Homo sapiens: one gene and its partners. The protein of the gene in region 1 interacts with the protein of each later gene in a pairwise test. Each region holds a gene or a part of one and is shown on either strand. Other genes may lie near its edges.

What was found.
Region 2: the proteins of APPL2 (region 1) and CNMD interact in a two-hybrid assay, tested with the Homo sapiens proteins (one large-scale study listed by BioGRID and IntAct).
Region 3: the proteins of APPL2 (region 1) and LGALS9C interact in a two-hybrid assay, tested with the Homo sapiens proteins (one large-scale study listed by BioGRID).
Region 4: the proteins of APPL2 (region 1) and KMT2C interact in a two-hybrid assay, tested with the Homo sapiens proteins (one large-scale study listed by BioGRID and IntAct).
Region 5: the proteins of APPL2 (region 1) and CRLF3 interact in a two-hybrid assay, tested with the Homo sapiens proteins (one large-scale study listed by BioGRID and IntAct).
Region 6: the proteins of APPL2 (region 1) and RBP7 interact in a two-hybrid assay, tested with the Homo sapiens proteins (one large-scale study listed by BioGRID and IntAct).
Region 7: the proteins of APPL2 (region 1) and RAI2 interact in a two-hybrid assay, tested with the Homo sapiens proteins (one large-scale study listed by BioGRID and IntAct).

What each region holds. Positions count from the first base shown.
Region 1 is NC_000012.12:105,174,988-105,177,174, forward strand, and holds part of APPL2 (DCC-interacting protein 13-beta), read right to left. Parts: intron 2,030-2,187; coding exon 1,889-2,029; intron 1,096-1,888; coding exon 1,048-1,095; intron 1-1,047. UniProt on the Homo sapiens protein: Multifunctional adapter protein that binds to various membrane receptors, nuclear factors and signaling proteins to regulate many processes, such as cell proliferation, immune response, endosomal trafficking and cell metabolism.
Region 2 is NC_000013.11:52,702,764-52,705,792, forward strand, and holds the end of CNMD (leukocyte cell-derived chemotaxin 1 isoform 1 precursor), read right to left. Parts: intron 1,048-3,029; coding exon 832-1,047; 3' UTR 501-831; downstream 1-500. UniProt on the Homo sapiens protein: Bifunctional growth regulator that stimulates the growth of cultured chondrocytes in the presence of basic fibroblast growth factor (FGF) but inhibits the growth of cultured vascular endothelial cells.
Region 3 is NC_000017.11:18,486,789-18,490,288, forward strand, and holds part of LGALS9C (galectin-9C), read left to right. Parts: intron 1-111; exon of another isoform or gene 112-128; coding exon of another isoform or gene 129-152; intron 153-858; coding exon 859-969; intron 970-2,152; coding exon 2,153-2,248; intron 2,249-3,500. UniProt on the Homo sapiens protein: Binds galactosides.
Region 4 is NC_000007.14:152,174,004-152,177,503, reverse strand, and holds part of KMT2C (histone-lysine N-methyltransferase 2C), read left to right. Parts: coding exon 1-1,313; intron 1,314-3,261; coding exon 3,262-3,373; intron 3,374-3,500. UniProt on the Homo sapiens protein: Histone methyltransferase that catalyzes methyl group transfer from S-adenosyl-L-methionine to the epsilon-amino group of 'Lys-4' of histone H3 (H3K4).
Region 5 is NC_000017.11:30,782,184-30,784,438, forward strand, and holds the end of CRLF3 (cytokine receptor-like factor 3), read right to left. Parts: coding exon 2,004-2,255; 3' UTR 501-2,003; downstream 1-500. UniProt on the Homo sapiens protein: May play a role in the negative regulation of cell cycle progression.
Region 6 is NC_000001.11:10,007,228-10,010,727, reverse strand, and holds part of RBP7 (retinoid-binding protein 7), read right to left. Parts: intron 3,159-3,500; coding exon 2,980-3,158; intron 2,556-2,979; coding exon 2,454-2,555; intron 1-2,453. UniProt on the Homo sapiens protein: Intracellular transport of retinol.
Region 7 is NC_000023.11:17,799,549-17,802,298, forward strand, and holds the end of RAI2 (retinoic acid-induced protein 2), read right to left. Parts: intron 2,487-2,750; 5' UTR 2,463-2,486; coding exon 870-2,462; 3' UTR 501-869; downstream 1-500.

The DNA of each region.
Region 1 (2,187 bases):
ATTCTTGTGCCTCAGTCTCCCGAGTAGCTGGGACTACAGGTGTGCACCACCACACCCGGCTAATTTTTGTATTTTTAGTAGAGATGGGGTTTCACCATGTTGGCCAGGCTGGTCTTGAACTCCTGACCTCAGGTGATCCTCCTGCCTCTGCCTCCCAAAGTGCTGGGATTACAGGCATAAGCCACCATGCCTGGCCTGCTTTTGTCTTATGATAGCAGAGTTGAATCTGTTGCAAGGGAGATAGCCAAAAACATAAAGACCCTTTATAGAAAAAGTTTGCCAACTTTTGACCAATACCATTAAATACTAGCTTACAGTGCTTGCCACTATTTCATGTATGTGGCCTTAGTCCTTGGTCTTTCTGACCTCTCCAAGACTGAACTGCACTAATATGGTAGCCACTGGCTACATGTTACTATGTAAATTTGAGTTAAATTTAAAAATCCAGTTCCTCAGTCACACTTGCCATATTCAATCTGCATATTAAATTGTGCAGATATAAATCATTTCCATTATTGCAGAAAGTTCTGTACATTGCTGAACTAGAAGCCCCCTGGGGGCAGGGACTATATCTGTCTTGTTCAATTACACAAACTAGGCTCTCAAAAATTTGCTGAATGAACAAAAGATTAAAAGCTGCTGAAAGACAGGGAGGTCTCAGAATCCTCATTTCTTAAAAGCTCCCAGGTGACGTCTGTCAATGCTGTGGGGCATGTGATCATACTCTGAGGAGCAAGGCCTTAGAGCAGCACACGGTGGGTACTTATCTATCATCTTAATCTGAAAGAGGAAATCTAGCCAACTAGTATGCAAGCAAGAAAACAGATAAGCAGGAGCTCCAGCAGTGATAAGAAGTCCTCATGTGTTAACAGTGAACATGGAACTAGCTGATCAAAAACCTCTGGTGGTTAGAATACTTTTAAAAGGAAATCCCAAACTTGGCCACACTTTCCAGTGAACATCACTTTTCTTTTTGAAAAGACTCTTGGTATGTGTACACAGATGTGTTTTGAGTAGCTACTAAACCAGCGCTAGAATGCATCTTACCTTCTGAACCTCAATAATTTCTTTTCCCAAATTAATAGCATAACATATCTGCAAAAGACAAGAAAAGTAGTGATTGGCAAAAGTAGAGAAGGATAAAATTTTAGAACAAATGTGATTTGGGAGTACAGTGAGGTCACTGTTCTCACTGTTCCCACTTGGGAACACAGGACCTGGCTGCAGGAGACTCATCACATAGGGCCCGGGGCATTTGCGTCCAACTGTCCTGACCTCTGTTGCCAATTTATGCCACACAAAAAATATTCCAGGTAAGTGAAACTCAGGTAATTCCAGTGTTAAAAGTTCTTAATAGGAATTTTTCTTCTCTCTCTTAAATGTATTTAGCCACGATATGTCCATATACACAGTGGCAAACAGATAATTTACTGAAAGGATTGGTTAATTGTGATAAATTCTAAGTAGCAGATAGAGTCAAAAGTTTTTCATACTAAACCAACAGCTTGTGTGTAACTTTTCTAATATCTTCCTTGGTTTTCTCTCTGAGACTAAATTATTCTCTATTGTAGCTTTTGCCTTAATTTTTTTTAAAGAACAAATTTGAGGGGAACTGCTTTCAACATTTCCTTATATCCCGACTAAATAATATGTCTTGCCATGAAATTTCTTCCTCATTCACCCTATTCTGGTTGATAGGTATTTTCCACAGAGAAATTTAAATCGAGTTTTCTTTCAGTGAGGCCTTCTTAGGAGGTATTATCTGAACTCCTGGATGGAGACATGCAGAATAATCAACTAAATATCCAAGGAAGTAATGCCAGAAAACTCTTTTAAAATGGACTTGTTTGGACTGGGATATTATGGGATCTTCACATGAAAAAGAGACCTTTTCGCCTTCTGAGTTGCTTTCAAAAATGTATGTACTCAGAGATTCTTCTCCAGTGGATTCAGGAACACGGATGACAAAACCAACCAGTCTCTTGTTTTCTTGATGAGCAGCAAATTGTGTGACACTGGTAAGTTCAAACTGGGGGGTGGAAAAAAAGGCAACAGATCATACAACTACTAGAATTAAAAACTGACAAGGCTACTCTCTGGAAAAGTCATGAGAAAAAGTATCCTATTAGTCCTATTAGTGGCAGATCTTTATTAATAAAGTGCCTAGGCTGTGTTTAAGGTAGATAC
Region 2 (3,029 bases), on another chromosome or scaffold:
CTGTATCTGCCAAGCAACACTGTCAGCCCTGTAACTAGGAGAGTAACTTATTGGTAATTGGACTACAGCCGCAGCCTGATTTGTACTACAAAGGTAAAAATCATTATGCTTCTTCATGCCCAGTGACCACTTACTGAAAACAGATTGAGAAAGGTGTGAAGACCTGCTTTTCAGAATGTCAATAAAGTCCTTCCTCCCCACAAGTCTGATTTATCTTCGACTGCATTTTTCTTTATCCTAGTGCTGTTTCCCTGGAGGTGACTCTTAACACAGGTCACATGCCAGTGCACTCAAATAATTCCCCATGAGCTTCCAGATTGAGGCTAAAAATGTTCACTTTTAGGTAGATTCCATTATATATCCTTTCCTTTTTCTGTGTGTTTTTATCTGGGAATTCTGGGGACAAAAAAGATTAAGAACAGTTGAGGAATTCTGTACAAATAACAATGACTTATTTTCATCATGACTTAATTAAAAGGAGCTCAAGTGTACAATTGAGATTTTTGGCAAACTGTAAATTTTCATGTTTATTTCAAAATAGCTTTGGAAGATACAAGCAAGGGAAGACTTATGGCAAAGCAATGCAAATAAAAAATAACAAATAATAAAGGGGTTATGGCATTTTAGACTTGAACTACCCTTTCAGTACATTTGCATATACTAAAGTTCTGGAAAACAATTGAAAAAATTCTGTTAAGAGTGTCAAGAATAACCGCTCAGGTTGAGTGTAAAAATATTTTGTGGTCCTATCAGCATCAACCTGCCTTAATGCTTCTTTGGTTGTCTCTTCAGCTAGTTCTTATTTTACAGCACATGATATATGAAGTGATTTCACACCATGCCCAAGATACGGGCCACCCACCAGCTACATGGCATGATGACTCTGCAGGCCGAACGGCAGCCTTGATAATTATAAGGCCATGGGTAATAGCCCCCCAGGGGTTCACAGATCTTCTGGCAGTGGGTGTAGCTCCGCCTACATTCTATACAACAGATTCCTTCGTGATCCAGTCTAGGGTCGAATGTCATGCTTTCCCCTTCCTGCTGCTGTGAAATAAAAGATAATTATTTGTGATAACTGCATAGTGGGAAGGTCATAGCATGCATGTTATTTTTAAATAAGATTCTGAATTTTTCACTGCTACAGGAAGGTGTAATCTGTAAAGGGTTTGATCTTGTTTACCCTGTCATTCATAATTCATGTTCACTGCTGTCATTCATAATTCCTTTTGACACCAAGGAATCTACACCTACCTCACCTGTCACTGACTAGAAAGTTGTTTTGTCTTTTAAAACGATATCCTGAAGTTTCTCCATGCCTTTAATGAACTATGGTTACCACTTAGTAACTCAGCTTGTTTTAAGTAGGAAAGCAAGAAGGAAGCATTATGATAAAAAGTAGCATTTCTGCCACTGCTAATTCTAAGTCAGTGGAATGCTTGTGGCTTCTTGCAGTAATAGCTTCCAGGGCTCTAGAAGCACTTTTTGAAACTCATCAATCTAGGCTAAAGACAGATTTCAATTCCAGTTGCACTGGCTCTGAGAACACTGTCAAGTCATTTAGTTTTCTCCTGCTTTCATTTCAGTAACAGAATGGGGATGTTATCTCTATAGGGACAAAGGGGTCTCAGGAAAAGACTCCACAAAAACATGTAAAATTCAAGGCCTTAAACTTTGCCTTCTAGTTTTTTATGTAAATATATAAACACAAGATTACATTGGTGAAGTAAAAATCTCCATTTTCACTGCTGGTGAGATTACAGAACTGGAAGGAACTCCCATCCCTCCAACCCTGCCCGGTTTACATATTTGGTTTTCCTTTTTGGGGACTTGTAAGGGTGGAGATTCTGCATTATTTTTAATATGGTATTGAAGTGCATTCCCAAGAAACCCTTATCTTTAAATTCTTGATTCAATTTAAGATTCTTTCCTAAAGTTAGCTGATTCTGGTGTTTAAACAAAGTCTTTAATCTTAATTTGGGATGTCGGGGAGTGGGGGGAGTTATTAAAAATTTCAGCCACGCGCAGTGGCTCATGCCTGCAATCCCAGCACTTTGGGAGGCCAAGGTGGGTGGATCACCTGAGGTCAGGAGTTTGAGACCAGCCTGGCCAACATGGTGAAACCAACCCCATCTCTACTAAAAAATTAGCCAGGCGTGGTGGTGGACACCTGTAATTCCAGCTACTCAGGAGGCTGAGGCAGGAGAATCTCCTGAACCAGGAGGTGGAGGTTGCAGTGAGCTGAGATTGTGCCATTGCACTCCCGCCTGGGTAACAAGAGTGAAACTCTGTCTTGGAAAAAAAAAAAATTTCAAACATACTGGAGAGTAGAGAAAATTATAGATTGAACACCAATAGACTCATCTAGATTGGACAATTGCTAACCTATTGTCAAATTTGCTTTTCCCCTTCCTGCAACAGCAAAAGATAGGGAAATAATTTATATGTCCATCAAAGCAAAACTAGTATTTTAAAGTAAATTCTGAAGTGAATTTAAAGAGAATTGGAGGAATTGTGACATTTCTTCCATAAATACATTAGAATGTGCCCCCCAAAATAAGGATATTTTCCTAAATTTACAACCAGATTGCCATTATCACAAAATTAACAACATGATCTGATACAACCCATATTCAAGTTATGTCATCAAAATATTTATTATCTTACTCTTAAAGCATTCATTTTTTAATTCATCAGACTCACTCTGTTCTTTACCTTATTTCTTGAATAGGTTAATCTGGGACAGCAAAAAGACAACAACCTCATTTATTAATTATGAGGCAGGGAGAGTTAAAAGGCCTGTCAGTTGAGGCACTTCCTTATCTGAGGACCTGACAAAAGTTTTAGGATTGAAAGGTTGGGAGGAAATCTCATGTTGTTACCCTAAGATATGTTTTTTAAAGGAATAACTGAATGAGATCATGGAGATAAATGCTTTAACCATTTCTGCTTAAAGTCCAACATATAATAAAGGAAAAAATTGATATAATTGGAGTTTTTCAAGGGATAAAGGTCACTCAAGACTGGAT
Region 3 (3,500 bases), on another chromosome or scaffold:
AGAAAACCAAACACCGCAAGTTCTCACTTATAAGTAGGAGCTGAACGATGAGAACACATGGACACAAGCGGGGAAACAACACACACTGGGGCCTGGTCGGGGACGGAGAGCATCAGGAAGATTAGCTAATGGATGCTGGGCTTGATACCAAGGTGAAGGGTTGATCTGTGCAGCAAAACACTGTGGCACACATTTACCTAGTTAACAAACCTGCAGATCCTATACTCATACCCTGGAACTTAAAATAAAAGTTGAAGGGGCTGGGCACGGCGGCTCACCCTTATAATCCAAGCACTTTGGGAGGGTGAGGAGGACAGATGGCTTGAGGTCAGGAGTTCAAGACCTGCCTGGCCAACATGGTGAAATCCCGTCTCTACTAAAAATACAAACATTAGCTTGGTGTGGTGGTGGATGCCTGTAATCCCAGCTACTCGGGAGGCTGAGGCAGGAGAATCGCTTGAACCACTGCACTGCAGCCTGGCTGACAGAGTGACACTCTATCTCAAAAAAAAAAAAAAAAAGTTGAAGGAAAAATAATAAATAAATGAAACCCCAGGAAATTCAGTTTGGTTCCTGAGCATGGGCTCTTTCTGGAACAATATGGCCTCCTAACCAGGCTGGAAATCGAGGAGTGAGAAGAAAGGGGAAGGAAACAACCAGAAGAATGGAAAGCCCGACTGGAGCCCAGTAGAGACTCCGGTTGATGCACTTCGGGCCACACACACGTCCCTGTAACTGGCCCCACACTGAAGACCAGACTCAGGTCTTCATTTTTTAGAAGGAGGGACCAGGAGCTCAGGGGTGGTCCCCATCCCGGCCTGGGGCACCTCCCCCGAAATACGTGCTCTCCTCTGGCAGGTGATGGTGAACGGGAGCCTCTTCGTGCAGTACTTCCACCGCGTGCCCTTCCACCGTGTGGACACCATCTCCGTCAATGGCTCTGTGCAGCTGTCCTACATCAGCTTCCAGGTCAGACTGTCCACCTGGCACCGGTCCCAGGGGCTGGGATGCAGGGCCCAGCGTAGCTGTGCTTAGGCCCAGCTGGGGGGACCCAAGCCAATCTCCTACCCAGGTCACTCTGGGGACAACCTCTGCTTCCCTGTCCCAGTACCTGCCCGCCCCTTCTCCTCTGTCACTCTGCCCCTCCTTCTGTGTCACTGTCTCTGTCTGGAACACCTGCCTTGGTCTCCCAGACTCCTCAGCTGCCCCTTTCTCTTCATCCGTCAATTTCCATCCTGGTAAGGAGGGCATATTGTTCTAGAAAGAGCCCAGGCTCAAGAACCAAACTGAATCCAGTTCAAATTCCCAGCTCTGCCATTCGTCATCTGTGGGATCTTAGACAAGCAACTTTGCCTCTCTCAGCCTCAGTTTTGTCATCTGTAGAATGAGCATGGTCATTGCCTGCCCCCCATGGGTGGTTGTGTGATTCATTGAGGAGACAGATATCAGAGGTCACACAATGGCGCCCCTGGGCCCACACCAGGGTCTGTGTGACCTCTGTGTTTTAAAAACTTTGAATGCGTTGCCAACATCTAAAAGGTCAGGAGACCCAGGTATGGTGGTGGAGGTCTGCAATCCTGGTTACTCAAGAGGCTGAGGCAGGAGAATCGCTTGAGCCCAGGAATTAGAGTTCTGCCTGAGCAACATAGCAAGACCCCATCTCTAAAATCTTTTTGTTTGAATAATAAAATAAAATAAATAAAACTAAAGAAGGTCAGGAGATACCAACACCACGTGAAAAATGGGAAGATTAGGGTATGCTGGGCCCACATTCCCACAGGGCACCGGCAGCTGGATGGGAGCTGCTGTTACCCTTTTGGCATTCAAGGGAGCTCCCTGAGATGAGCGAAGTGCACAGTAGGCCCTCAGCAAATCTGGGCTCCTCACCCTTTGGTCCTCATCTCTCATTCCCTCCTTCCCTGACTCTCTCCCCTGCGGGTGGAAGGGGAGGGAAGAGCTGGAGGGAGACTGTCCCCCTGCGCTGCTCACCGAAGCCTGGCCCTTTCCGCTCCCGCCTCCGTGTGGCCCTAACCCCCTTGCTGCATCCCCCTGCCTGCCTGTTCTCTGCCTCCTGCCCCTGCATCTGCCTTTCGGCTTCTCCTTGGCTCTATTAATGCTTCTCCTCACCGGCCGGTGCCTTTTGTTTTAACAGAATCCCCGCGCAGTCCCCGTTCAGCCTGCCTTCTCCACGGTGCCGTTCTCCCAGCCTGTCTGTTTCCCACCCAGGCCCAGGGGGCGCAGACAAAAAGTGAGTTCAACACAGAGGCCCTGGGTGGCTGAGCAGACAGCAGGAAGGACCGAGGGTTTGAGAGGCTGGCCCCAGCCAGCAGGCCACCAGGGCCTATGGGCCACATCTTGCCCACTCAAGAGTTCCCTGTCTCTGTCTGCTGGGCACCCAGAGCCGGGGACCTGGGTGTTGCCCTGGATTCTTCACTACCCTTTCTTTATGTCTCTCCAAGGCACCAACATATCTCCCTCCCAAAGCCACCGATGTGGCCCAGGCCTCTGGGATTCCTCACCATGACTACAGGGGTCCAGTTCCCCACCCCCCACACCCAACCGCTGCCACAGTGACCTTCTTATAAGCAAATCTGATCACACTCTCTCCCTGCTTAAAAATCTTAAAAGTCCCCAGCCCTTTAAACAAAGCCCAAATTCCCCAGCAGGGCATACGAATTCCTCCCCAGTCTGGCCCCAGTCCACCTCCTTGCCTCACCCCCAACCCACGAAGCTCATGCAACCTCCACGGCTCACTCAAGGCCCTCTCGGGCCACCATGCTTTTGCATATGCTGTCCCTGGTCCCGGAAGCACCCTCTGCCAGCCTGCCCTCAGCACACGCCTAATCGCCCTTCCATGCTCTGCCAAAGTGTCGCTCCTCTGGGAGTCCTCCCTGCCCAGAATATTGTTGGATGCTCCCCCCATGCCCCCACGGAGTCTGTACATATCTGTGCCATGCCAGTTCACAGCACCCCATTGTAACTGTTTGCGTGTCTGTCCCTGTCACTCCACCCCCATCTCCCTATGCCCATGAGGCCCCAGAGGGCTGGGACTGTGGGTCGTTCATTTGCACAGTGCCTGGCACTCACTTAGGGACTCGAAGAATGGATGAATGTGGAATGTGGTTTTCGCAGCCAGGGAGAATGGGATACCAGCCAGGGCAAGAACAGTCTACTGGGTGGGGCAGGATCCACGACAAGGAGGTGGGCAGCCCTTCCTCTGGCCACTCAAGCAGTGGGGACTGGGAGGAGGGGCGCTTTGTCTATGTAGCCTTTTTATGGCCCATGATGGTACAGACAGTGCACCTGCCTCCTGCCACGCTGACTTCAGGACTGGTGGAGCCCCAGGGAACATTCGCAGGGCAGCCAAACTTTGGCCCTGGCCCTGGCGCTGGCCCTGGCCCTAGGGATGACAGAAAGTGTGCTGGATACAGTCAGACAGAATTGGCTGCCATTTTGGATTTGATCCCTTCCACCCGGGCAAGCTTGGGCAAGTTGCTTAA
Region 4 (3,500 bases), on another chromosome or scaffold:
CCATCCACTAGGTGGTGAATTTTCAGAAGCTCCTTTGTCAACATCTGTACCGTCTGAAACAACGTCTGATAATTTACAGATAACCACCCAGCCTTCTGATGGTCTAGAGGAAAAACTTGATTCTGATGACCCTTCTGTGAAGGAACTGGATGTTAAAGACCTTGAGGGGGTTGAAGTCAAAGACTTAGATGATGAAGATCTTGAAAACTTAAATTTAGATACAGAGGATGGCAAGGTAGTTGAATTGGATACTTTAGATAATTTGGAAACTAATGATCCCAACCTGGATGACCTCTTAAGGTCAGGAGAGTTTGATATCATTGCATATACAGATCCAGAACTTGACATGGGAGATAAGAAAAGCATGTTTAATGAGGAACTAGACCTTCCAATTGATGATAAGTTAGATAATCAGTGTGTATCTGTTGAACCAAAAAAAAAGGAACAAGAAAACAAAACTCTGGTTCTCTCTGATAAACATTCACCACAGAAAAAATCCACTGTTACCAATGAGGTAAAAACGGAAGTACTGTCTCCAAATTCTAAGGTGGAATCCAAATGTGAAACTGAAAAAAATGATGAGAATAAAGATAATGTTGACACTCCTTGCTCACAGGCTTCTGCTCACTCAGACCTAAATGATGGAGAAAAGACTTCTTTGCATCCTTGTGATCCAGATCTATTTGAGAAAAGAACCAATCGAGAAACTGCTGGCCCCAGTGCAAATGTCATTCAGGCATCCACTCAACTACCTGCTCAAGATGTAATAAACTCTTGTGGCATAACTGGATCAACTCCAGTTCTCTCAAGTTTACTTGCTAATGAGAAATCTGATAATTCAGACATTAGGCCATCGGGGTCTCCACCACCACCAACTCTGCCGGCCTCCCCATCCAATCATGTGTCAAGTTTGCCTCCTTTCATAGCACCGCCTGGCCGTGTTTTGGATAATGCCATGAATTCTAATGTGACAGTAGTCTCTAGGGTAAACCATGTTTTTTCTCAGGGTGTGCAGGTAAACCCAGGGCTCATTCCAGGTCAATCAACAGTTAACCACAGTCTGGGGACAGGAAAACCTGCAACTCAAACTGGGCCTCAAACAAGTCAGTCTGGTACCAGTAGCATGTCTGGACCCCAACAGCTAATGATTCCTCAAACATTAGCACAGCAGAATAGAGAGAGGCCCCTTCTTCTAGAAGAACAGCCTCTACTTCTACAGGATCTTTTGGATCAAGAAAGGCAAGAACAGCAGCAGCAAAGACAGATGCAAGCCATGATTCGTCAGCGATCAGAACCGTTCTTCCCTAATATTGGTAGGAGTTTTCTTGAGTCTCAACGTATATTACTATGGGTATTAGAGTGGCATGCGATATGCTTATAAGATTTTATTATTAGAATTACAGTTGGAATAAAGCACTGAGTTTTTCTATTCCTCCTTGAGGAGTTTGTTTGTTTTGTTTTGAGACGGAGTCTCACTGTGTCACCCAAGATGGAGTGCAGTGGCGCGATCTCGGCTCACAGCAACCTCCACCTCCTGGGTTCAAGTGATTCTCCTGCCTCAGCCTCCCGAGTAGCTGGGACTACAGACACGTGCCACCATGCCTGGCCAATTTTTGTATTTTTAGTAGAGGTGCGGGGTTTCACCATGTTGGCCAGGCTGGTCTCAAACTCCTGACCTCAGGTGATCCGCCTGCTTTGGCCTCCCAAAGTGCTGGGATTACAGGCGTGAGCCACCCTGCTTGGCCCTCCTTGAGCTTTAGAATGAAAGCAGTTGGCTGGGCACAGTGGCTCACGGCTGTAATCCTAGCACTTTGGGAGACCGAGGCAGACAGATTGCCTCAGCTCAGGAGTTCCAGACCAACCTGGGCAACACAGGACATGGATGAAGCTGGAAACCATCATTCTCAGCAAACTAATGCAGGAACAGAAAACCATACACTGCATGTTCTCACTCATAAGTGGGAGTTGAACAGTGAGAACACATGGACACAGGGAGGGGAACATCACACACTGGAACCTGTCGGGGGTGGGGGGCTAGGGGACGGATAGCATTAGGAGAAATACCTAATGTAGATGACGGGTTGATGGGTGCAGCAAACCACCATGACATATGTATACCTATGTAACCAGCATATTCTGCACAAGTATCCCAGAATTTAAAGTATAATAATTAAAAAAAAATAACAAAAAATTAGCTGGGCATAGCAGCGTGCGCCTGTAGTCCCAGTTATTCGGGAGACAGAGGCAGGAGAATGGTGTGAACCCAGGAGGCGGAAGTTGCAGTGAGGCGAGATCGCACCATTGCACTCCAGCCTGGGGGACAGAGTGAGACTCTGTCTCAAAAAAAAAAAAATGAAAACAACGAAGAGTTTTAGATTCTTTCCAGGTAAATTAAGAGATTCAAAACTGAGTTACAAACTTCCCTCAATTCTATTATTTATGGAATTGTTTAATAGAAACTAATTGTCTTCTTAGTTCCTACATTCCAACCATTGTTGCCATATGTTTTCAGTCATGGAAGGATGAATTTAAGAAAATTATGATGGAAATAAAGCTTCTTACTGTCCTTTTGTGTATGACAAATGCTTGGCGATTTTTTGCTATATAAACCTCTTTAACTTGTTTCTAATGGTTTACTGATTCTAAAAACAACAAAAGCAATGCAGTCAAAATGCCTCAGTGCCTCTAAGAATAAGAATTAGCAATCAAAGGGCACGTGTCTAAGCAGTGTGCCTTATTCTAAATAATAAAATTGACATTCCATTTTATATATCCCCAATTTCATCATTTTGCTCCCTTTTTTTCATTTAGATGCAAATAGGTTTTTTCGTAGTAGCTTCTTATTGAGAGGTTATACCCTTAAGAAATTGGTGCATTTTTCTTTTAAGAGTGATAACTAATTTAGTAGAATTCCTTAGTATTGCAAATTCTTATTTGTGATGTTATATTTACTAAAGAAGCCATTCTGATTAGCATTGCAAAAGTTTGGATGAAAGGAAATTAATTGCATTGCTTTAGATTATTGCTTATAATCTCCCTTAAACTTGACTTTTTGTTTTAATTCCTGCAGGACTAAGGTATTAAAGCATGATTCAGTTAAGGACTACTGAGATGCGATTAAACCCAGGATAAGGTTGCCATCTCAGAAATCTGTAATGATTATTAAATAATAAAATTTAAGAGCTTGTAATATTTGAATTACTTCTTAGTGTACGTTGAACTAATTACTATGAAATAAGTAACTTTATATTTCTTTTCTAGATTTTGATGCAATTACAGATCCTATAATGAAAGCCAAAATGGTGGCCCTTAAAGGTATAAATAAAGTGATGGCACAAAACAATCTGGGCATGCCACCAATGGTGATGAGCAGGTAGGTGGAGTGGCTGCTTGTTTCTACTGGGCATCTAGACATTCATGAAATCATTACTAGTTTTTAGAAAAAACATACAGAAAATGGAAAGCCCTTGTCTAGGAATGAACAACACTATTTAAGTTGT
Region 5 (2,255 bases), on another chromosome or scaffold:
TATAGGTATAAATTAAGATGTCATTTCCCTAGAGAGGCTAAGAAATAAATACATTCAACAAATATTTGATGAATTAAAGGAATGAGATGAAGATATCTGGAGAAAACGACTCATTCGATCCACCATTCATTCTGCACACATTGTGTCAGGCAAGATGCTCAGTATCAGACACAGAATATAGGAAAGTACAAGTAACCAGCTGGGTGTGGTCACTCATGCCTATAATCCCAGCACTTTGGAAGGCCAAGGCTGGGGAGGACTGCTTGAGGCCAGGAGTTTGAGACCAGTCTGGACAACACAGCAAGACCCTCATTCTCTACAAAAAATATTTTTAAAAAAGTTTTTAAAAGAAAGTACAAGAAGGTACACATACCCTTTCACAAGTCACAGTGATATCTTACTAAAATGCCTGGAGCCACAAGAAGCCTGTTTTCCCTTCAAATGAAAAGTAGGTTAAAACTGGATTCACCAAATCTCACAGAAGAAAAAAGTACACACACTGAACTTTTTTAGTTTTTTATTTTGATTCCTATGGCTGGACAAGGTATCTACATTCTAGAACATCTTCTTAATCCCTAAACAAGTGGAAATCTACTACTTATATATAAAAAGACAAGTAGAAAAGGTCATGATTGTCTAACAGGGAACATGAATCCCCAAATAAATTATCTTACAAAAATATCATACTTGCTTTTCTACTTTTTTACTATACTGGTAAAAATGAAATGAAAAAAATAATTCACATTAAAATAAAATCTGTAGGGTGGCATAGAAGACAATTATTTTTACATATTAAAGTCCTTCAAATAAATATTTTACACACAAATTTAAGTAAGTTTTTAAAAAAAATAAGTATTTACGCTATATTTTTTTGCTCTGCTAAAAAGAGACCACTTATTAAACTGACATTAAACTGGACTGCAGCTCATTCTCTGCAAAGAGTAAAATGCATGTCACAGGCAGATTGGATACACACGTGCATATTACATACATATGAAATGGCTAACACTGCTGTGCATACTACTGCCATAACTAGTTTTACCCTGTAAAAATACTGTAGCCTATACTGTATCAAATTGCAATGAAAGAACAAAAGGTACTACTTGCCTATTTTAGACACTTGGTCAAGCATTTAAAAAAATACAAAAATTGGTCCACTGCAGTGGCTCACACCTGTAATCCTAGCACTTTGGAAGGCTGAGGTGGGTGGAACACCTGAGGTCAGGAGTTCAAGACCAGCCTGGCCAACATGGTGAAACCCTGTCTCTACTAAAAATACAAAAATTAGCCAGGTGTGGTGGCCGACGCCTGTAATCCCAGCTACTCAGGAGCCTGAGGCAGGAGGATCGCTTGAACGTGGGAGGCAGAGGTTGCAGTGAACTGAGATCACACCACTGCACTCCAGCCTGAGTGACAAGAGTGAGACTCCGTCTCAACAAAAAAAGAAAAAGTTATAATGTTTTGGGGACTTAAAGATTACTGAAGAGGGGATAAAAGTCAACACTGCTTACAAATACCTGAACATGGAGAGCACAGTCAACACATTCATGTGGACAGCACATGAACGGATGTATTAATACATTACACAGCTTCTTCTATCTGACCTATTCCTCTTGTTCTAAAGAGTTACATGGACTTGGATCCTTTAAGATGATTTTAAAAATAATATTACATTAAGTTTTCCTGGTCTAATAACCAACTTTGAGAAGTACAGTGGAAGGGTATAGAACTTCCTATATCTTCTATACTTTTAATGCCAATTTGATTTTTATTGTGATGTGATATTTAACAGTATGCTAAAAATAAAATTGACTGAATTGTATGATTTTGTCCACAACATTGAAGTCTCTTTTTGCTAAAATATTACAAAATGAATCCAGTAAACACTTTCCAATGGCCTAAGTTAGAGATGAATTCAACTTTTTTTTTAAAGCAATTACAACTACGCTGGGCTGAGGACAGCTACGTTAGACCCTGAAAACCAAAGCCAAGCACCCAAACATCTAAAACACTAACACTTTCCATCCAGGATAGAAAAATGAGCATCCAAAGTAAAGAGAACCACAAGACTGATCAAGTAACCAGTCAAAAACCACTTCTCTATTATTTGAACTTATAGTTACTCGAAGCTTGAAGTGTCCACCTTCATTATTACTGGTGGTTCCTAGAGTCACGGCTTCAATGTCAAACGTGACAGTGGACCCAGAAGTAACTGCGGGTAACTGATTTGTCATTTCTTTTCCATTGACAAAAAC
Region 6 (3,500 bases), on another chromosome or scaffold:
CTGTAATTCCAGCTACTTGGGAAGGCTGAGGCAGGAAAATCGTTGAACCCGGGAGGTGGAGGTTGTGGTGAGCCGAGATCGCACCATTGTACTCTAGCCTGGGCAACAAGAGCGAAACTCCGTCTCAAAAAAAAAAAAAAAAAATTAGCTGGGCATGGTGGCGGGTGCCTGTAATCCCAGCTACTTGGGAGGCTGAGGCAGGAGAATCCCTTGAACCCAGGAGGTGGAGGTTGCAGGGGGCCGAGATTGCGCCACTGCACTCAAGCCTGGATGACAGAGGGAGACTCTGTCTCAAAAACACAAACAAAAACAGGCCAGGCACAGTGGCTCACGCCTGTAATCCCAGAACTTTGGGAGGCAGAGGCGGGTGGATCACCTGAGGTCAGGGGTTTGAGACCAGCCTGGCCAATATGGTGAAACCCTGTCTCTACTCAAAATACAAAAATTACCCAGGTGTCGTGGCATGCACCTGTAGTCTCAGCTACTTGGGAGGCTGAGACAGGAGAATTGCTTGAACCCAGAAGGCAGAGTTTGCAGCGAGCTGAGATCATGCCACTGCACTCCAGCCTGGGCAACAGAGCAAGACTCCATCTCAAAAACAAAACAAAACAAAACAGGCTGTAAAATAATAGTTGTCAGCACATGGCCTCTAGGGAATGTTTTGGAGTGATTGACTTGTCTGAAACTGGATAATGGGAATGGTTGTACACCTGTATACATTTACTAGAAATTATCAAACTGTACACTTAAAACAGGTGCATTTTTTGGTACATAAAGTATACCTCAATAAAGCCATTAAAGAAAAACACCTCAAGTCCAACAGCTTAAAAGTAAAAGAAGAAAAAGAAAAAGAAAGGAAAAGAAAAACTCCAAGAATTACATTCCAAGAAATTAAATTTTTATTACAAGCGGCCACGCCTGTAATCCCAACACTTTGGGAGGCCCAGGTGGGCTGATCACTTGAGGTCAGGAGTTCGAGACCAGCCTGGCCAATATGGTAAAATCCCGTTTCTGCTAAAAATACAAAAACTAGCTGGGTGTGGTGGTGCATGCCTGTAGTCCCAGCTACTCGGGAGGCTGAGGTGGGAGGATCGCTTGAACCCAGGAGGCAGAGGTTGCAGTGAGCTGAGATCACACCACTGCACTCCAGCGTGGGTGACACTGGGTGACAGAGGGAGAGACTCCATCTCAAAAAAAAAAAAAAAATAAGACATTAACTTTTCAGCTTGGGTGTACTGACCCCATTTCTTTGGAGTCTGTGTTTCCTGGGTGGCCATTCTCATCTTCATGCCTGAATAAACCCTTATTTTGTTTTATTTTTTTTTGAAACGGCCTCTGTCACCAGGCCGTAGGGCAGTGGTGCGATCTTGGCTCACTGCAACCTCCGACTAACTGGTTCTAGCAATTCTCCTGCCTCAGCCTCCCAAGTAGCTGGGATTACAGACATGTGCCACCATGCCCAGCTAATTTTTGTATTTTTAGTAGAGACGGGGTTTCACCATGTTGGCCAGGATGATCTTGATCTCCTGACCTCGTGATCCGCCCACGTCAGCCTCCCAAAGTGCTGGGATTACAGGCGTGAGCCACCTCGCCCAGTCTGAATAAACCCTTTTAAACTGGATTCTGATGCTTCTGACAGCAGCCTTGGGGAATTTCAAAATCCCAATTTATTTGTGAATGGGAAAAATGGCGTCCTTTTCACAGGGTTGTGAAGATTAGATGAGATAATGCACTCAAAGGATTGAGCACAGTAATTGGGCCCAAAATAATCACTCCAAAGATGTGAGCTACTATATCTATCTATGCATATCTATGTATACATAAAGTAGCTATTACATATAATAGGTAAGAATTGTTCCATGAGTATTTGCATGTTATCTTCCTGCCTCTGTCGGAATATTCGGCTGTTTCATTTAATATAAGATGAGAGTGAGTATAGGCATGCGCCACTATGCCCGGCTAATTTTTGTATTTTCAGTAGAGATGGGCCAGGTGTGGTGGTGGCTCATGCCTGTAATCCCAGCACTTTGGGAGGCCGAGGCGGGTGGATCATGAGGTCAAGAGATCGAGACCATCCTGGCCAACATGGTGAAACCCCGTCTCCACTAAAAATACAAAAATTAGCTGGGTGTGGTGGTGCGTGCCTGTAGTCCCAGCTACTCGGGAGGCTGAGGCAGGAGAATCGCTTGGACCCAGGAGGTGGAGGTTGCAGTGAGCCGAGATCGCGCCACTGCACTCCAGCCTGGTGACACAGCGATACTCCATCTCAAAAAAAAAAAAAAAATAGTAGAGATGGGGTTTCACCATGTTGGCCAGGCTAGTCTCCTGACCTCAAGTGATACACCCACCTCGGCCTCCTAAAATGCTGGGATTACAGGTGTGAGCCACCACGCTTGGCCTGATGTTTCCTTTAATACTGTATCATCTCATTAAGAACAAAATGTGGTGGATACCAGGTGGAGTTTGTCTCCTTCGATCCAATGGGTCCAGCCTCTGTTCTTCTTTTCTCCCTTCTGGATACAGGTGAGCCTGTCATTGTCCCAGATAACCAAACTCTGCATGAAGAGAGGAGAAAATGTTAGCTTGTCCTGGCAGGATCCTCAAGTGTTACGAAGTAGAATGCCAAGTTACCCTTGCAAAATCAACAGCCTACTTACTGCTTTTTTTTTTTTTTGAGATGGAGTCCCACTCTGTCACCCAGGCTGGAGTGCAGTGGCACGATCTTGGCTTACTGCAACCAACCTCCACCTCCCGGGTTCAAGTGATTCTCCTGCCTCAGCCTCCTAAGTAGCTGGGATTACAGGCTCCTGCCAGCACGCCCCCCTACTTTTTGAATTTTTTTCTGTAGAGACAGGGTTTTGCCGTGTTGCCCAGGCTGGTCTCAAACTACTGACCTCAGGTGGTCCGCCTGCGTTGGCCTCCCAAAGTGTTAGGATTACAAGCGTAATCCACCGCACCTGGCATTTCTTTACATTTTACCTTGCATTTTCTGTTGTCCAGGCCTCTGTTATCTTCATCAAATTCTTCTCCAACTTTAAATTTCACAAAGTAGTTCCTTAGGCTGCTGTTCGTGTGGATGGTAAAAGAATCCCCATTCTGCTCAATCACTTTCTGTGGCTTCAGCAACTTGGCTATTTTACGAGTGGCAAAGTCAATACCTTAAAAATAATTTTTAAAAATATTTGAACATTCGCTTGAGATACAAAAGTGAAGAATTTGGTAGCTGTTCTCAAAATCACCACATGTAATTGTTAGCATTTCCTGTACGACTTCTATGTTGTTTGCTGCCAAAATCAGATCTACAAGGAATCGTCTTGGCAAACTGCCAACCACAGCCTGATTAAAAAGTTTGCAAATGCCAGGTGCAGTAATTCCAGCACTTTGGGACACAGAAGACAGGAGGATTGTTTGAGCTTAGGAGTTTGAGACCAGCCTGGGCAACATAGCAAGACCCTGTCTCTATAAAAAAATAAAAACTGTAGGCCAGGTGCAGTGGCTCA
Region 7 (2,750 bases), on another chromosome or scaffold:
CGCCACTACTTCTGACTTGCAAGATTTTCAATCATTGAGAACAATGCTCTTACTGCCCTTGAAAAGAAGGGCATTTCCAACTAAACTTTTGGTTGGTGGGAAGGAAGCAGGTTACTTTTTTGTTGTGAGACATTTGTCTTGTCTTACACTATGGAAGGTCCAGGCACAGAATTCTACACACCCAAGAACTATATGAACTGGAAGGAGCCTCAGGCACTTGAAACTCACCTCGCTGTCCCTTTTCTTTGCCACTTATTTATTTATTTATTTTACAAATGAAATTTAAAAAACCCAAGGCCAAAGTGGGAAATGACTTGCTCAAGGTCATCCATATTCCTAACCCTCCTTTTACTGGGGCATAGGGCAATATTTTCCAATATGCCTGAAAAGCTTAGGTCTCTAATCACAGATAACTTACAGCTTTTCACAAGCAAGAGTTTTGGCCAAATTATGCCAGTTAAGGAATGTAAATTTTATAAATGATGAAATACTGCAACCAATTAGTGCAAACAAACATTTATTGTGAAATATTCATCCTACCCTTTATTAGGTATTACATCATCAAAGCACTTTGTGGCAATGAAAATAGCTTTTTTTACCCCTCTAATTCACCCAATATTCCATTAAAGCTGCAAAAAATGTGCAATCTGCTTGAAAAATAGGTTGCTCTTATTTACTCATTTGTGAAAAGTCAAAAATTAAAAAAGAAAATGATACTAGCATACAGGGCCTCTAGAGCCAATTCACCTTTCCATTTCCCAACTACTCCCCAAAATAATTAACAAAGATAATTTGTTTTAAATGCCTTTTTATAAAACCAATGCACCTTTCCCCATATTATAATCATACAAATTTTAAAAAGCCGTTATTTACTTTCTTGGAAAAAAGGTGGCCAGCCGTTGTTTTTTGATTGGGAGCATGTGTATTTCCTGGGAGTTCACTTTCTTTAACTTTATGCTCCGGTTTTTGATGGGTTTCCTAAGGGGCTCTGCATTTCCCATGGACTCTTCCCCTTGGCTGTTGATGTCATAGCCCTGAAGCACGGAGTCTTCTCTTTTGAAGGAGAAGTTTTTGGTGGACACCCCTGAGAGGCCTTTGATCTTGCCACAGAATATGGTAGGCACAGCATCTTCGACAGAGACAATGACCTTGGCCGCCTGGGACTCGCCCACCATCTCAATGTTATTTTCAGCCTTGACTTCGCCGCTGGGGTGGTTGGGCTGGCTGAGCATCTCGGTAGCAGCATCACTGCTGCTGATGTGACTATCCATCATGGCTGGGGCCTCATGGGACGTGGCAGGGGCAAAAGAAATTTCCATGCCACTGGGAAGTTTCTCCATCACTGTGTGACCTGAGCTGTCCACTGATGCACCACTGTCATACAGTGTCTCAGGGGGAGGCTCGGATTTCCGGTGGGCTGCCACTGACAGGTCTAGGGCTGCATCTTCCTGGAAGATTGGGGGACTGACTTCACCAGCCTTGAGCCAGGGCACTGACTTCATGGAGAGATCCAGGGCCTCGTTCTCACTTCCCATCTTAATGACCGTGTGGCGGCTGAGCTGGAAGTACTCCTTAGGCTGGAGGATGTCAAAGGGCTTCAGTTCATCTTTTTCCAGAGGGGTCTGGGTGCCTTTAAAGGGGTGCAGGCCGAAGGAAGATGGTGGCTTGGGGAAACTGGAGCTGAACTTGGATTCAGAACTCTGAGGCATCGGGATGGGGATGGGAATAGGGACTGGCACAGGCAAGGGGACGATTACAGGATACGGCACCAAGAGGGTGGCTGGTGGGACCAGGGGGGACAAGGGGGAGCTAAAAGGCTGTGGGGGCACAGGGGCATAGCCAGGAGGAGGCTGACAGGGTGGGGGCCCGAGAGTGCCCTGGGAGGGAAACAAATTCTGGAGCACAGCTTCAAATGGCAAAGTGGGCTCCTGCGGCTGGCTGGGGATCCTCAGGTCCAGGAGCTGGGGCTGGGCCTCGGGGTCCTCCGCTCCCTGGAAGAGGTTGTTGTGGATGGTACTGGAGGAGCATGGGGCCTCCTGCGGCAGGACCAGAGGGGAGTTGAGGTGCTGAAAGACGTGCTGCTCCAGCACCACGGGCAGTTGCACGGGGCCCTGGGTGGTCATGACGTAGGTGGCATTGCCATTCGGATTGAGCTCTGGTGCGGAGCTTCCCTCCACCTGCATGTGAATGGGCATCACCACTGGGCTCTCCCCGAGGCACAGGGGCTGCAACACAGTGGCCGCCACCTTCAGAGCCATGCCACTCTGAGACTCGGCAGGGGGGTTCAGAATGGATGGGGCTGGCACGGTCACCAGGGCCTTCTTTACCAGGTCAGTGGAGTTGATGTTCCAGGCCTCGGTGGTGATCAGCTGAGCCATGCCATTCTCCAGTCTGTTATTAGCCAAGGCAGGAGGGGAGTCAGTCATGTCCATGGAGAGGTTCTGGGACTGCAGGTCGTCCATCACTCAGCTCTGATGCCACTTGGCCTGCAACACAGAACATACAATATGAATCTTCCTTAAAAGACTATTTATAATTGCCTTAAGAGCTCTCTCACATCTTTAGAAAGTTTCCACGTTTTAGTTAACCAGGGAGCATAACCCATCTCTCTATGTATATGTTCAGGTTATAGATATCTCCTAATATATACAAACACAACCACATGATCCTGTGTGCGTGGAGAACCCCAATTTAACAGATGATTAAGCTATAAATGCAGATGATGTAATCAGTAAATAGCCAAGTGAGGT